Homo sapiens: one gene and its partner. The protein of the gene in region 1 interacts with the protein of each later gene in a pairwise test. Each region holds a gene or a part of one and is shown on either strand. Other genes may lie near its edges.

The links. Proteins that work in one complex are often made in the same cells at the same time.
Region 2: the proteins of SPICE1 (region 1) and CEP135 interact in binary tests that used the Homo sapiens proteins (3 or more experiments, as listed by UniProt).

Annotation. Positions count from the first base shown.
Region 1 is NC_000003.12:113,512,157-113,519,280, reverse strand, and holds the start of SPICE1 (spindle and centriole-associated protein 1), read left to right. Parts: upstream 1-4,124; 5' UTR 4,125-4,384; exon of another isoform or gene 4,385-4,623; intron 4,624-7,124.
Region 2 is NC_000004.12:56,014,945-56,021,969, reverse strand, and holds part of CEP135 (centrosomal protein of 135 kDa), read right to left. Parts: intron 4,323-7,025; coding exon 4,113-4,322; intron 2,618-4,112; coding exon 2,415-2,617; intron 1,295-2,414; coding exon 1,190-1,294; intron 1-1,189. UniProt on the Homo sapiens protein: Centrosomal microtubule-binding protein involved in centriole biogenesis. Acts as a scaffolding protein during early centriole biogenesis.

The DNA of each region.
Region 1 (7,124 bases):
GACTCCTTCTTTCACAAAACATTAGGACACAAACACAATTTAACCAAGTTCTTACCACTTAAAAACCAGGTTTGCGTATTGTCCAGTTTCCAATATTTTATTCCTTATTTCCACCTGAGACCTCATCAGAATTTCGTTCACTGCCAACACTTTGATCATGACCACTTAAGACAGAGGCTTTTTTTTTTTTTACAGCTCTTCTCTCCTTCTGAGCCCACACTATCGCATCCCTTTATAGTCCAGCCTTTCTCCATTATCCAGTTCCAAAGCTGTTTCCACATTTTTAGGTAATCGTTACAGCAGCACCCCATTTCTCAGTACCAACTTCTGTTTTAGTCCATTTGGGTTACCATAATGAAATACCTTCAAATGGGTAACTTATAAACAACAGAAATTTGTTTCTCATGGTTCTGGAGCCTGGGGAATCCAAGATCAAGGCACTAACAAATTTAGTGTCTGGTTTCTGTGTCCTCATATGGTGGAAGAGGTGAATCCTGTGTCTTCACATAGCAGAAGGGCAAAACGGGCAAAAGGGACAAACAGGCTTCCTAAAAGACTCTTTTTTAAGGGCACAAATCCCATTCATGATGAGCAGAGCCTTCATAATCTAATCACCTCCTTCCTGAAAGCCCCACCTTTTAATACTATCACATTGGCAAATTGTCACATAGAAAGTTTGTGGGGACACATTCAGACCATAGCAATGGCTTGTTTAGAAGTGTATTTTATTCCCCAAATTTTGAGGGATTTTCCAAGAATCAGTCTGTTATTGATTTCTAATTTAATTACATTGTGGTCAGAGAATGTATCTTGCATGACTTCAATCCTTTTGAATTTGTTAACATTTGTTTATGGTCCAGATTATTGTCCATCTTCTAAACTTTCTGTATATGCTTAAGAACCATGTGTATTCTGCCAATTATTGGAGTGTTTAATAAATGTCAATCAGGTCAAGATGGTTGATAGTGTTGCTCAAGTCTCTTATAACCTTGTTGATTTTCTGCTTATTTGCATTATAAATTATTCAGAAAGGGGCATTGAAATATTTGACTATTGTGGATCTTTCAATTTCGCATTGCAGTACTATCAGTTTCTGCTTCATATATTTTTAAGTCCTGTTATTAGATGCAAAAATGTTTAGGATTGTTATGACCTTTTGATTAAATGGTTCTTTTATTATTATTAAATGATCTTCTTTATCTCTGGTTATATTCTCTGCTCTGAACTCTACTTTGTTTAAAATTGATAAAGTCACTCCACTTTATTTTCACTAGTGTTAGCATGATATATCTTTTTTCCATCCTTGTATTTTAAACTTATTTGTGTCTTTATATTTAATGTTTCCCTTCTTATAAGCAGCAATTTAAAAAATTCAAGATTTTAAACAATCTCTGACAATCTGACAATCTCTGCCTTTTATTCAGTGTGTTTAGACAATTTACATTTAATATGATTTATGAGTCTATCATCTTGCAATTTCTTTCCTACTTCTCTCTTTTCTTTGTTTTTTCTTGTTTTATACTTTTAGATTAATCAAGTATTTGTTTCGTTATCCTTTACATGACTTTTGTAAGCTTTTAACAATAACTTTTATTATTTAGTGGCGGCTTTAGGGTTTATAGTATACATCTTTATTTTATCATAGTCTACCTTTAAGTGGTATCAGGAATAGTATAAGGGTCAGGCGCGGTGACTCACACCTGTAATCCCAGCACTTTGGGAGGCCAAGGCGGGCAGATCACCTGAGGTCAGGAATTCAAGACTAGCCTGACCAACATGGAGAAACCCCGTCTCTATTAAAAATACAAAAATTAGCTGAGTATGGTGGTGTGTTCCTGTAGTCCCAGTTACTCCGGAGGCTAAGGCAGGAGAATTGTTTGAACCTGGGAGGTGGAGGTTGCAGTGAGCCGAGATCGTGCCACTGCACTCCAGCCTGGGTGACAGAGTGAGACTTTGTCTTAAAAAAAAAAAAAAAAGGAATAGTATAAGGATTCTAGGTTGATAGCTTTTTTTCTTTGAATATGTTTGAACTGTTATTCTGTCTTCTTGCTTGTTTTGATTCTAATGAGAAACTGATGTAATCCTTAGTTTTGTTCTGCTGTATACGACATGTATTTTTTTCCTTGGATGCTTTTAAGATTCTTTTATCACTCGTTCTGAGCAATTTGATTATGAAGTATTTTGATTAGCTTTCTTCATATTTCTTATGCTGAGCTTCTGAAGGCAGGTCTGTGGGTAAAGATAGTGACAGAAGGATTAAAATAATGATGGGAGCTTAGGGAAGTTCTCTTTTGAATAATTCAGTGTAATCAATGCAGTAGGAAGCAAGGTCATTGTGTGAGAATGAGGATAGGAGACAAGGCATTGGGTATGAATGAAGGTATAAAACTAATATGTAGGAAAATCAATGAACAGGGACCTGTAATGAGATGTTCAAGCATCTTTAAGGTCCTACTTAACATCAGTAATCATGAATTTAAAGTCAGCATGATTGGGTGTTTTTTTTCAGATTCAGCTGCATGGGTGCAAGCACTTAGTAAGTGTAAAGTAGGGATGGCTAATATGGTCATTTTGCCAAGTGATTACAGCAATTTAGAGAGGGGCAGGGAGTTGAGGATGCAAGCAAGTGGATGATTGTTGATTATTAAATATATCTACATCAAACTTCCTCAATCAGAGTGAAAACTATTAAAGGCAGTACCTTTCCTCTAGAAGGTTTTGGGCATGTATTTGCAGACCACACATGGGTGTATTGTAACAGCAGAAAGCAAGGGGCTAGAGGAAATTGTCTTACCAGAGCAAATAAACTCTGTTTTTGAATCAAGTGCTTTGTAAAGTTCTTAACGTGGTCCACGCAGCTCTGACTGTCGTGGATCCAGCCTATCAGGGCGCCTCCCCTTCACAGCAAGTTCCCACTGTTCTCTAAACTTCAGACACACTGGACCTCTTCCTGTCCCTTGCATTTTCCACATCTTTGCACATGCAGCTCCCTCTGCAGGAATGCTTTCCCCTTCCCCACTGGCCTATTCATGTCTGAGCTTTCCTGAGTAATTCAAATATTACTATAATAATAAGCTAAGTATTTGGTTAGAGTGCTTCCTTCTTAGCACTCGTCATAATTTTAATGTTTTTGTCATTGATAACTGTCTGTTAATATGCTGTAAGTTTCCCACCTTGCCTGTTTTTAGCCCCATAGAACCTAGCTCTCCCGCACATTTGTAGGTTGTAATAAACAACTTTTTTTTTTTTTTTTGAGACAAGGTCTTGCTTTGTCGTCCAGGCTGGAGTGAAGTGGTATGACTGTGGCTCACTACAGCTTTGCCCTCCTTGGCTCAAGCGATCCTCGCACCTCAGCTTCCTGAGTAGCTGGAACTACAGGCGTGTTCCCACGCCCAGCTAATTTTTTAATTTTTCGTAGAGACGGGGTTTCGCCATCTTGCCCATGCTTGTCTCAAACTCCTGAGCTTAAGCAATCCTTCTGCTTCTGTCTCCAAAAGTGCTGGGATTCCACTACTAAAGATTTGTAAACAAATGAATAGAGATGAAAGCAAATTAAGTGATATGTGAAGTCTGGTGAGGAGAGCAACATCTTTCTTTTGGAGAATTCTCGAGGCACCGGCTAATGCTATATGCCTATTCTTTTTTTTTTTTTTTTTTTTTTGAGACGGAGTCTCGCTCTTTCGCCCAGGCCGGACTGCAGTGGCGCCATGTCGGCTCACTGCAACCTCCACCTCCCAGGTTCACGCCATTCTCCTGCCTCAGCCTCCCGAGTAGCTGGGACTACAGGCGCCCGCCACCTGGCCCGGGTAATTTTTTGTATTTTTAGTAGAGACGGGGTTTCACCGTGTTAGCCAGGATGGTCTCGATCTCCTGACCTCGTGATCCGCCTGCCTCGGCCTCCCAAAGTGCTGGGATTACAGGCGTCAGCCACCGCGCCCGGCCTGCTATATACCTATTCTTTAATAATTTGCCCTGAACCTTGCAGAGGAACCTCTCTCCCTTAGACTCAGGACCCGAGATAGGCTTTGGGAGGCGCCTGCGCACTGGGCTCGCCGGATATACGCAAGGGCGTGGGGCGGAGCTCTGGTAACCCAGGCAACAGCCCGGAAGCCGCTGGCTGGGTTAACCTGTGGCGCGCTCCGCGGTTCCGGCGCCTGAAGTTTTAGCTGCGGTGGCGGCGGCAGTCGGGACCGACTGCAAGGCAGGTTGAGATGATGGATCTGAGGCTTGCAGCTCGCAGTCCCAACGAGCCTTAGGGACCAGGGCTACCAAAAGGGTGGGGAGAACGGTGGTGGCATCTGTCTGTTGCCTGGGATCCAGGCGCCCGGTTGGGGAATCCTTACTTCAGGAAGCGCAGCCGCGGCTCTGTGTTTTGAGAGTGCAAGTACGTGTCAGGGTGCGTGTCTGGGTATGTTTGTGCGTGGCGCCAGAGCACCTCGAGTATGCGCGTGCGCACCGCTTTCGGGAGCTTTTGCACAGAGCTGGTAATTGGGGGTGCTCGATTGTAGCGTTGGGGGAGTTCACCGTGTAGCAGGAGAGAGGCAAACTATCCAGGGTGCTTTGGGACCGGGAGCGTCATTTAAATCGATGGATGTCAGAGGGGCTTCTCAGAAGGCTCCTCCTGTGAGTTTTGAGGAGTCCGTGGAAGTTAACCCAGTAGAGAAGAGAGTGAGCCTAATGAGTGTTCCAAGCAGAGGGAAAAGAATGGTTGCAACTGTGTGTGAGGCGAGAGCTTGGTTTTAGGATTTGCGGGAGATGTGAGAGAACACTGGAAAGAAAAGTCAGCCGGGCCATATGGGGGAGAGGGTCTGAATGCCAAGCTGAGTTGGATTGCTTTTGACAGTGGGGAGCCATCCGAATCTAGAGGAAGTAGGTAAAGGGTTCAGATCTATTCTCTATCCATGTATTTAGGTAGGATTGATTCAACAGTGTTTGGAAAGAGTTCTTGTTTCTCTTTGATCAGTTTTCCACACCAGTCAGAGTGGATTTACTAAGTCCAGTCATAACTATCCCTTTTAAAATTCTTCAGTGGTTTCCTATGGTCTTAGGTGTTCAGATTGCTGTGGCTCACAAGACTACAATCTGCTGTCTGCCTTTCTTCCTTTAACCTCTCACCCTCTCAGATCTTTGTTAATTGAACTGAACTTCTCAAACTCTTCGTAAATGCATTTTCCCTTGCCTGGAATATTCTTTCCCCTGCTTCTAACTTTTATTCGTATTTTAGCTCTCAGTGCAAACATTTTTGGGGGTATTACAGAGAGGAGAAGCTTTTACTTACTGCATAGAGTTAGTTAGGTACTTTCATGGCACACAGAATTTACTTCCCATGCTGCCCTTTTGTTGTAAATACTTGTTTAATTGCGGTCCTCTTAGAAACTCTTAACTCTGCAAGGGCATAGACTATTCTACTTTCTTGTTATATCTGGTGCCTCGCTTTTAGATGGTGCTTCAAAATATTAGTTACATTAATAGATGGATGATGAAGTCAGTGAGTGAAGAGTGAAAGGGAGACTAATTAGAATAATGAGAGCCTGAACAAAAATATTTTTAGTAGAGATGGAGAAGAGCGGGCAAGAGAGATTTTTAGGGAAAAAGTTAATAGATTCTGTTATCTGATTCACTAAGAGATAAGGAACAGAGGTGATGCTGAGGTTTTAAATTGGAGCAACTAGGATTGTAATTCTGTAAATTCAGCTTAATTGAACATATTTATCGAGTCAACCAGTTATATATCAGCAAGTAGAGATTTGGGGTATGATGATGAGCTGTATTTTGATATACTGTATTTGTGATATTTGGGAGATGTATATAGTAGGTAGTTAGAAATGAGCATTTGGTGTTTTTGTTTTGTTTTTGTTTGTTTATTTTAAGAGACAGAGCCTCACTTTGTCACCTAGGCTGGAGTGCAGGGGCGCCATCGTAGCTCACTGCAGCCTCCAATTCCTGGGCTCAAGCAGTCCTCCCACCTCAGCCTCCTGAGTAGCTGAAACTATAGGCACTCACTGCCACTCCTGGCTAATTAAAAAAAATTTTTTTTTTAGAGACAGGGTCTTGCTATGTTGCACAGGCTGGTCTTGAGCTTCCTGCCTCAAGCGATCCTCCAGCCTCAGCCTCCCGAGTTGCTGGGATTACAGATGCGAGCCACTGTGTTTGAAGTTTTGAGGAAAGGTGTGAATCATTGATTTGGGACTCATTTTCACAGTGTGTTTGTTTGTCCATACATTCATAGCTTTGCTCAAGGGAGTTGGTGAGGTCACTGAGGGAGGATGTGAACTGCCCCTTTGTGATCAAGAAAGCAGCTCCATGAGAGCTGGCACCATATTAGACTTGTTTACTAATATCTTAGTTTATTTAGTTTACTTAGTTTACTTGTTTACTTGTATCTCTAATGCCTAGCCAGTGCCTGGTGTGTGCTGCACTCCCCCAAATAATTATTGAATGAAAGGAGAGGGTATCTAATGGAAAGACAAGAAGAATGAGAACTGAGATAGAACTGGGTGGAAATCCTTGATTAAATTGTTTGTGTGGAGGAGGACAATAGAGCCTGTGAAGAAAAGGAGAAAAGAATAGAAGAGGCCAGGTGTGGTGGCTCACGCCTGTAATCCCAGCACTTTGGGAGGCCAAGGCAGGTAGATCACGAGATCAGGAGTTCGAGACCAGCCTGACCAACATGGTGAAACCCCGTTTCTACTAAAAATACAAAAGTTAGCCGGGCATGGTGGCAAGCGCCTGTAATCCCAGCTATTCAGGAGGCTGAGGGAGGAGAATCGCTTGAACCCGGGAGGTGGAGGTTGCAGTGAGCTGAGGTCGTGCCACTGCACTCCAGCCTGGTAACAGAGCAAGACTCCGTCTCAAAAAAAAAAAAAAAAAAAAAAGAAAGCTTTTCAGTGCAAAGGTGGGGTCAGAGTTTTTGTAATTAATAAAACTTGGAGGTAGAACTAAGGATTAGTAAATACAGGTGCTAAAGTGTACCTTTTCATGAAGCTGGATGGCAAGAGAAGGGCAAAGATGGGATAGCAGCTTAACTATACCTGTGTTATCCTACTGTACACAGGTAGTAAATTACCACAGATTTAGTGGCCTAAAACAATTACTATTTATCATTTCACAATTTCTGTGGGTTG
Region 2 (7,025 bases), on another chromosome or scaffold:
CAGCCTCAACCTCCTGAGCTCAATCAATCCTCCCACTTCGGCTTCCTGAGTAGCTGGGACTACAGGCACCCATCACCATGCCCCAGCTAATTTTCAAAAATTTTTTTGTAGAGATGGTGTTTTGCCATGTTGCTCACGCTGATTTCAAACTCGTGGGCTCAAGTAAATCCACCTGCCTTGGCCTCCCAAAGTGCTGGGATTGCAGGCATGAGCCACCAAGCCAGGCCTTTATGAAATCGTAAATATTGATTTCATAGCAAATTGTCACTATACTTCAAATAGCACATCACTACAAAGTTTTGACGTAAATAGGTAAGAATAACTCAAAAACTGATCTAACAAGCAATTTGGCCACTAATTGAGAATGAAATCTCAGGAATGCAGATGTCTATGGTATTAATATAGTAGGAAAGAGTAATGGAAGACAAGTAACTTGGCAACTGATTTTCAAGTTAGACTTCGATTTAAAGCAGGTCTCAATCCGGGTTAGTAACACCTGGGGATTAAATTTTTCAACGTAAAGCAAATGAACCAAAATATGAGTGAATATGAAAATTACCAAGCTGTAGGGAATACATTGAAGAGGTTAAGGGTACAGGTTTTAGAATTAAAATCTGTTTGGTTTCCTACCACTTACTATTTATGTGATCTCAGTTTCCTATAAGGTAGGCATAATAATAGATTGTTGGTGGGATTCATCAGACACTTATATAGTGTCTGGTCCACATTTGTTAACTGCTGTTACTATCTTCAAATCATTACCTTTATTATGATTTGTATGTGGAACATCCTACTTGAACCATACATTTTGGAGCTCTTATAGGGATTGTTGTTGCTTCTCTATACTCTTTGAAATACTTTTGGATTCTAATTTTGTCCTGCGGAATGCTATAGGAAATATTTATCCAATACTTCCTATTTTACCTTATTTTTCAGATTATTAAACAATTTTATTCAATAAATATTTATATAGCATCCGCTATGTAATACTTGCTATTTTAGTTACTGTAGAGCTATTATCTTCCCCAACACTTGTTGCCTTTTTTAAAAGGAAGAATTACCAAAGAAATGTACTTTATGTATTAGCTTTTTAAAAAGTTTGTTATTTGTAAAGCCATATTAAATACTTTCTGAAGTACAATAGAGAACACATAAAAACATTGTCAAATGTAAAAAAAATTTGTCTTACCGTTCGTATCTTTCAGTTGAGATCTGCCTTTTCAGAGCATCATAATCTGTTTGTAACTGTGCCACTTTAGCTCGAAGCATGGTGTTTTCCCGGCTTTGACTAGTTCTTAAAAACAAATTAAAAAATCAAGAAATAAACGTTCCGTTTTGTAGAGTCAGGTGCTGTGGGTTTTTTAAATTAATAAAGAGAAGATCAAGACCTTTCAACAAGAATTCTCTAAACTTCTAGAGCTTTTATCACATTTTCTTTTTCATTCATTTAGTTTATTTATGAAACATGTACTGAACATCTATTATGTGCTAAGCACTAAAGCAATGCTAGGGATACAAATTTGAACGAGACATAAATGGTAACACCAAGATGTAAAGTGTCTTCATTGGCTCTTTCTTGACTCTTGCCTTGGAAAGAGAAATATTAATATTTTTAATACCTTTCAAAAGCTCATTCTTCCATGTGTACTCTACTCTGGGTTTCTTTCCCTCTTCCTACAAATATGTCTAAATCCTTCTATTCTAAAAATATGACATAATCAGTCTCTCCCAAAGTAATCAATACATGTATGTGGGTCAAATCTCATAGCCTTTTTAGAGTCCTTTTTCCTAATCTACAGCATAAGACACAGCCACCTCTTCTTCTCCCGAGAACACTTTCTCCTTCACTGACTCCTCTGTCCATTCCTCAACTGTAGGCGCTTTCCTAACGTTTTCTCTTCTCATTACTCCCACGGTACAACCTCTGTAGTGAAGATATACAGGTCTGCACCTCCCAACACGATGTTTCTCCCGAGTCAGTCTCCTAAATTTCCAAAAGCAGCAGATGTATAAGCCAAATATTTTGGTTTTGGGACAGCGTCTCGCTCTGTCGCCCAGGATGGAGTGCAGTGGTGCAATCTCGGCTCACTGCAACCTCCACCTCCTGGGTTCAAGTGATTCTCACGCTTCAGCCTCCTGAGTAGCTGGGACTATAGGTGTGTGCCACCACGCCTGGCTTTTTTTTTTTGTATTTTTAGTATAGACGGGGTTTCGCCATCTTGCCCAGGCTAGTCTCAAACTCCTGAGCTCAGGCAATCTACCCGCCTTGGCCTCCCAAAGTGCTGGGATTACAGGTGTGAGCCACTGCACCTGGCCTATCTTTCATACTCTTAACCTTTCCTCCACTTCAAAAAAATTAAAAAACTATCCTTCACAAGCAATTGTCTTTGCATAAGTTGACTTAAGACACTTACAATTTGCTTTCAGAAAGGGTTAACTTCTCCTTAAGTAGCTGGATTTCTGTATCCTTCTCGTGGGAGGTTAAGTGAGAATGAAATTCTTTATCTCTGTTTGTAGCCAACAATGATTCGAGGTTTTTAACTGTATGTCTCTCATTTGAAAGTTGTTTTTTCAGTAGGTCTGACTCTGACTTTACATTTTCTAATTCCACCACAACCTACGTGAAAAACAAAGTAAGATTACTTCAGTACAATTTTAAACTTACTCTGAAAAAATTATTTATCTGACAATATAGCTCTGTGGAACTATTCACCTATCACTTGTTTCATTTTGGGTATGGGTTAAAGATTATGAACTGTTTCTTTAAGTATAAGAAAGACACTTTATTTTCAAAATAATCTTTGCTATTTTTACTATGGGCTTATTTGGCTATAGGATCTACTCAAATCCTCAAATAATTTTTAGTCATGGTACCTTATCAAGAGACGGTCATTAAGATAAAACCACAAGGGCAATGAGACCCTTCTGGTTGAATATGCTTACTCTGACTACATAATCAAGCCAGTATTATAGTTTCTCAGTACCTGAAAATAAAGATACTACTAGATGAGTGAAAATTGAAAACATCCATGTTTGAAAACAAACACTAGGTTATTTAAAGTAATGCCTCCATCTGGGAAAGGTAAATTCTAGCTAAATAGACTTGTTTAATTAAGATTTAAACACCTTGAGATTTTTATCGGGAAAAATATTCTACTTCGGAAGCACTGAACTGTTCAATCCTTCATTCAAGTCTTACTTTTTTTTTTTGAGACAAGGTCTCACTCTGTTGCCCAAGCTGGAGTGCAGTGGCACAATCTCTGCTTACTGCGGCCTCGACATCCTGGGCTCAAGTGAACCTTCCCTGCCTCAGCCTCCCGAGTAGCTGGGACTATAGGCACATGCCACATGCCTGACTAATTCTTTGTATTTTTTGTAGAGACGGGGTTTTGCCATGCTATCCAGGCTGGTTTCAAACTCCTGAGCTCAAGCAATCTGCCTGACTCGACTTCCCAAAGTGTTGGGATTACGGGTGTAAGCTATCGTACCTGGCCTCAAGTCTTACTTTTAAACAGAGAAAGAATGTATTAGGATATGCTGATTTATAATCAGAAAATTCATAATCTCCTAGATAGCCATCTATTCCAAAACATTACCCACTTTCATCACTACGTTTGCCTGAGAAATCTTGCAAAGAATCAAGCAGTCAAATCTGGTTGTCAAAATCCTGTAGTCAAAAGTAACTATTGTAGGCTGGGTGCAGTAGCTCATGCCTGTATCCCAGAACTTTGGGAGGCCAAGGCAGGCAGATCACGTGAGGTTGGGAGTTTGAGACCAGCCCGGCCAACATGGTGAAACCCCATCTCTACTAAAAATACAAAAATTAGCCAGGTGTGTTAGCAGATGCCTGCAATCCCAGTTACTCAGGATGCTGAGGCATCCTGAGATGCCTGAGGGAGAATTGGTTGAACCCAGGAGGCGGAAGTTGTGGTGAGTTGAGATCGCACCACTGAACTCCACCAGCCTAAGCGACAGAGCAAAACTCCATCACAAAAAAAAAAGTAACTACTCTAAAAGGAAACAAGTATATGCATGGTGTGGTGAATACTAAAGTAAAATAATTAGAGTAGGGCTCAATAAAACAATGTGCCAAGACAATTTATCTTTCTTACCCTCTCAAACTCAAGGTTTTTCGAATTCAATTGCTGGGTCATAATATCTTTGCCTGAATCAAGTTTAATGCAAAGTTCTCTAAGAGATGACAAGTCATTTAATACTGTTGCTTTCTCATCTTCTTGATGTCTCAGCTCTTCTTCTAATCGAGACATGGCTTTTGCCATTGATGAGATCTGAGATTCATAAGCATGATGGGCATTTATGTGCTGAAAAAAGAAAAAGAAACAAGTAAAAAGTTAAAATAACCCAATAATTTTAAGAACTTGAATTTGTACAGCCAACAATCTCACTTTAGAAAAATATGACAGCCAATTTTTGCTTATTTTAAAATACTCTCAGGAAGCTGCCTACTATTTAAAGATGACCTATTTAATGCTTAACAAAATGAATTGTGTATAATTATTAATCATGGTAACTGAGTATCTCATGTATATATTTATATATTTGGAAATGTAAAAAAGAAAGTTATTGTATCAGGGTGTTGTGAATATGAGGGATTTTTGAGGTTGCATTAAATTTTTCCTTTAAAAATTATCTTTGTTATAATAATGTCATTTCAAGAAAAAGTAATATATATACATATCACTCCTCAACTGTCTTCAGTTAAATTCTAAATTCCAAAAATGGGGTTTACTTCAAAACTATATACCTGGATAATTTAAATTTAACTTAAATAAATAGTAAACAACTTTAATATTTTAATAACTGAAATAATGAAAAAAATTTCAAATAATGATAAATTTTTTTTTCTAGAAGAATCCACAGTTGAAATTTCTCACAATTTGAATTATGAGTAATAAATACAAACTGATATAAACTCTACTTCTAGGTTTTGGGGAGAATTCTGCATTGAAAAATAAAATTATTGCAAGAGGCTATTAAAACGGCTGGGTGGCTCACGTCTGCAACCCCAACACTCTGGGAGGCTGAGGTGGGAGGATCACTTGAGCCCAGGAGTCTGAGACCAGTCCGGGAAACATAGTGAGAACCTGTCTCTACCAAAAAATACAAAAATTAGCTGTGTGGTGGCACATGCCTATAGTCCTTGCTACTTGGGAGGCTGAGGCGGGAGATCACCTGAGCCCACGAGTTCAAGGCTGCAGTGAACTGTGGTTAAGCCATTCCACTCCAGCCTGGCCGATGGTGCAAGACCCTGACTCTTAAAAAAAAAACTCCACAAATCCACATTGAAAATCTAATATTGTGCTGTGAAGATTTAATCAATTTCAAAAATTGCAGAAAAGTATTTAGATTTTTTAGTGCATTAATAAAAGCTCCCCTAAACAAATATAATACTTTAGTATTGTATTGTGAAATTGGCTTATACTTTAGTAACAGCCAATTTCATATACCACATACGAACATGAACAATAATAAAGAACAAAATAATTGAAGATTAGTTGAGAACAGTTGCTGAAAAACTCTTTTGAAGGTTGAAAGGCACTCCTTTAATTAGTTATTATACCCTTCTTAACAGAAAAACTTTTAGAGATAGTGTATTAGTTCCCTAGGGCTGCCATAACCAACTACCACAAATTAGGTGTTTTAAAAAAACAAAAATTCATCCTTTCACAGTTCTGGAGGCTGGAAGTCCAAAATGTGGGTGTTAGCAGGGCTGGTTCTTCCAGAGCTTCTATGGGAGAATCTGTCCCATGCCTCTCTCCTAGCTTCTGGTGGATGCTGCCAGTGCTTGGTGTTCACTCACTTGCAGACATATCACTCCAATCTCTGCCTCCATCTTCACACAGCCTTCTCTGTACGTACTGTATCTAAATTTCCCTCATCTTTGAAGGACACCCATCATTCACTAGGTTAGGGCCTGCCTTAATCCAGCACAACCTCATCTTAACTTGTTCACATTTGCAAAAACCCTGTTTCCAAATAAGGTCATGTTGACAGATACTGGGGATTAGGATTTCAACGTATCTTTCTGGTGGACACAATTCTCCTACCCTCTGATCCCCCAAAATTCATGTCCTTCCCATATACAAAACACATTCACTCCATCCTAACATTCTAGCATCAACTCTAAACCCAAAATCTCATCTAAGCATCATCTGAATCACATATGGGTGAGACTCTGAATATGGACCACACTGGGACAAAATTCTCCTCCATCTACAGACCTATGACACTGGAAAACAAGTAAACTGCTTCCAAAATAAAATGGTGGGATAGGCATACCATAGAAGTCCCACTGTAAAAGGGAGAAAATAAAAGGAATAAAGGAGTTACTAGTCCAAAGTAAGTCTGCAACCAAGCAGGCTGAATCCATTAGATTTCAAAACCCAAAAATAATCATTTGTGCCTTCATTCTCTGGTGCTCTGTTCTCTGAGCCAGCCAGGGGGGCCCCACCCTGTGTCCCACAGGGGCAGTGGCCTTGCCCTCTGAAACCAAGCAGACAGACAGTAGCTCCATCATCTGGACCTGTGATGTCTGGGCTTGTGGTGGTAGCCACAGCCCCACCAGCCTCTGAGTTGCCCTTGGTGGCCTTGCTGGTCTCTGAGCTACCCTTAAGAGTCATTCTGTCCTTTTCTTGAAGGTGAACTTGCAGCCAACTAGCTCTGTTGGTCTGTCTTCTGCTAGTAGGATCCCAGAAGTCCAACAACCTTCCTTCTTTTCATCCCATTTCTGTTCCTTTCAGTCAAAGCTGGAAGTGATTCTGCTGAGATGATTGATTGGATTCATGAGTCACATATCTAATCTCTTCACCAAGAGGTTTTCTAGCCATACTCTGGAGCACACTATCTGGATAGGCTAAGAATTTTCCAAAATCATCAAGTCCTGGTTTATTTTTTTTTCCTTTTTTTTGAGACAAGGTCTTACTTTGTCACCCAGGCTGGAGTGCAGTGGCATGATCTCGGCTCACTGCAGCCTTGACCTCCTGGGCTCAGCCCCCCAAGTAGCT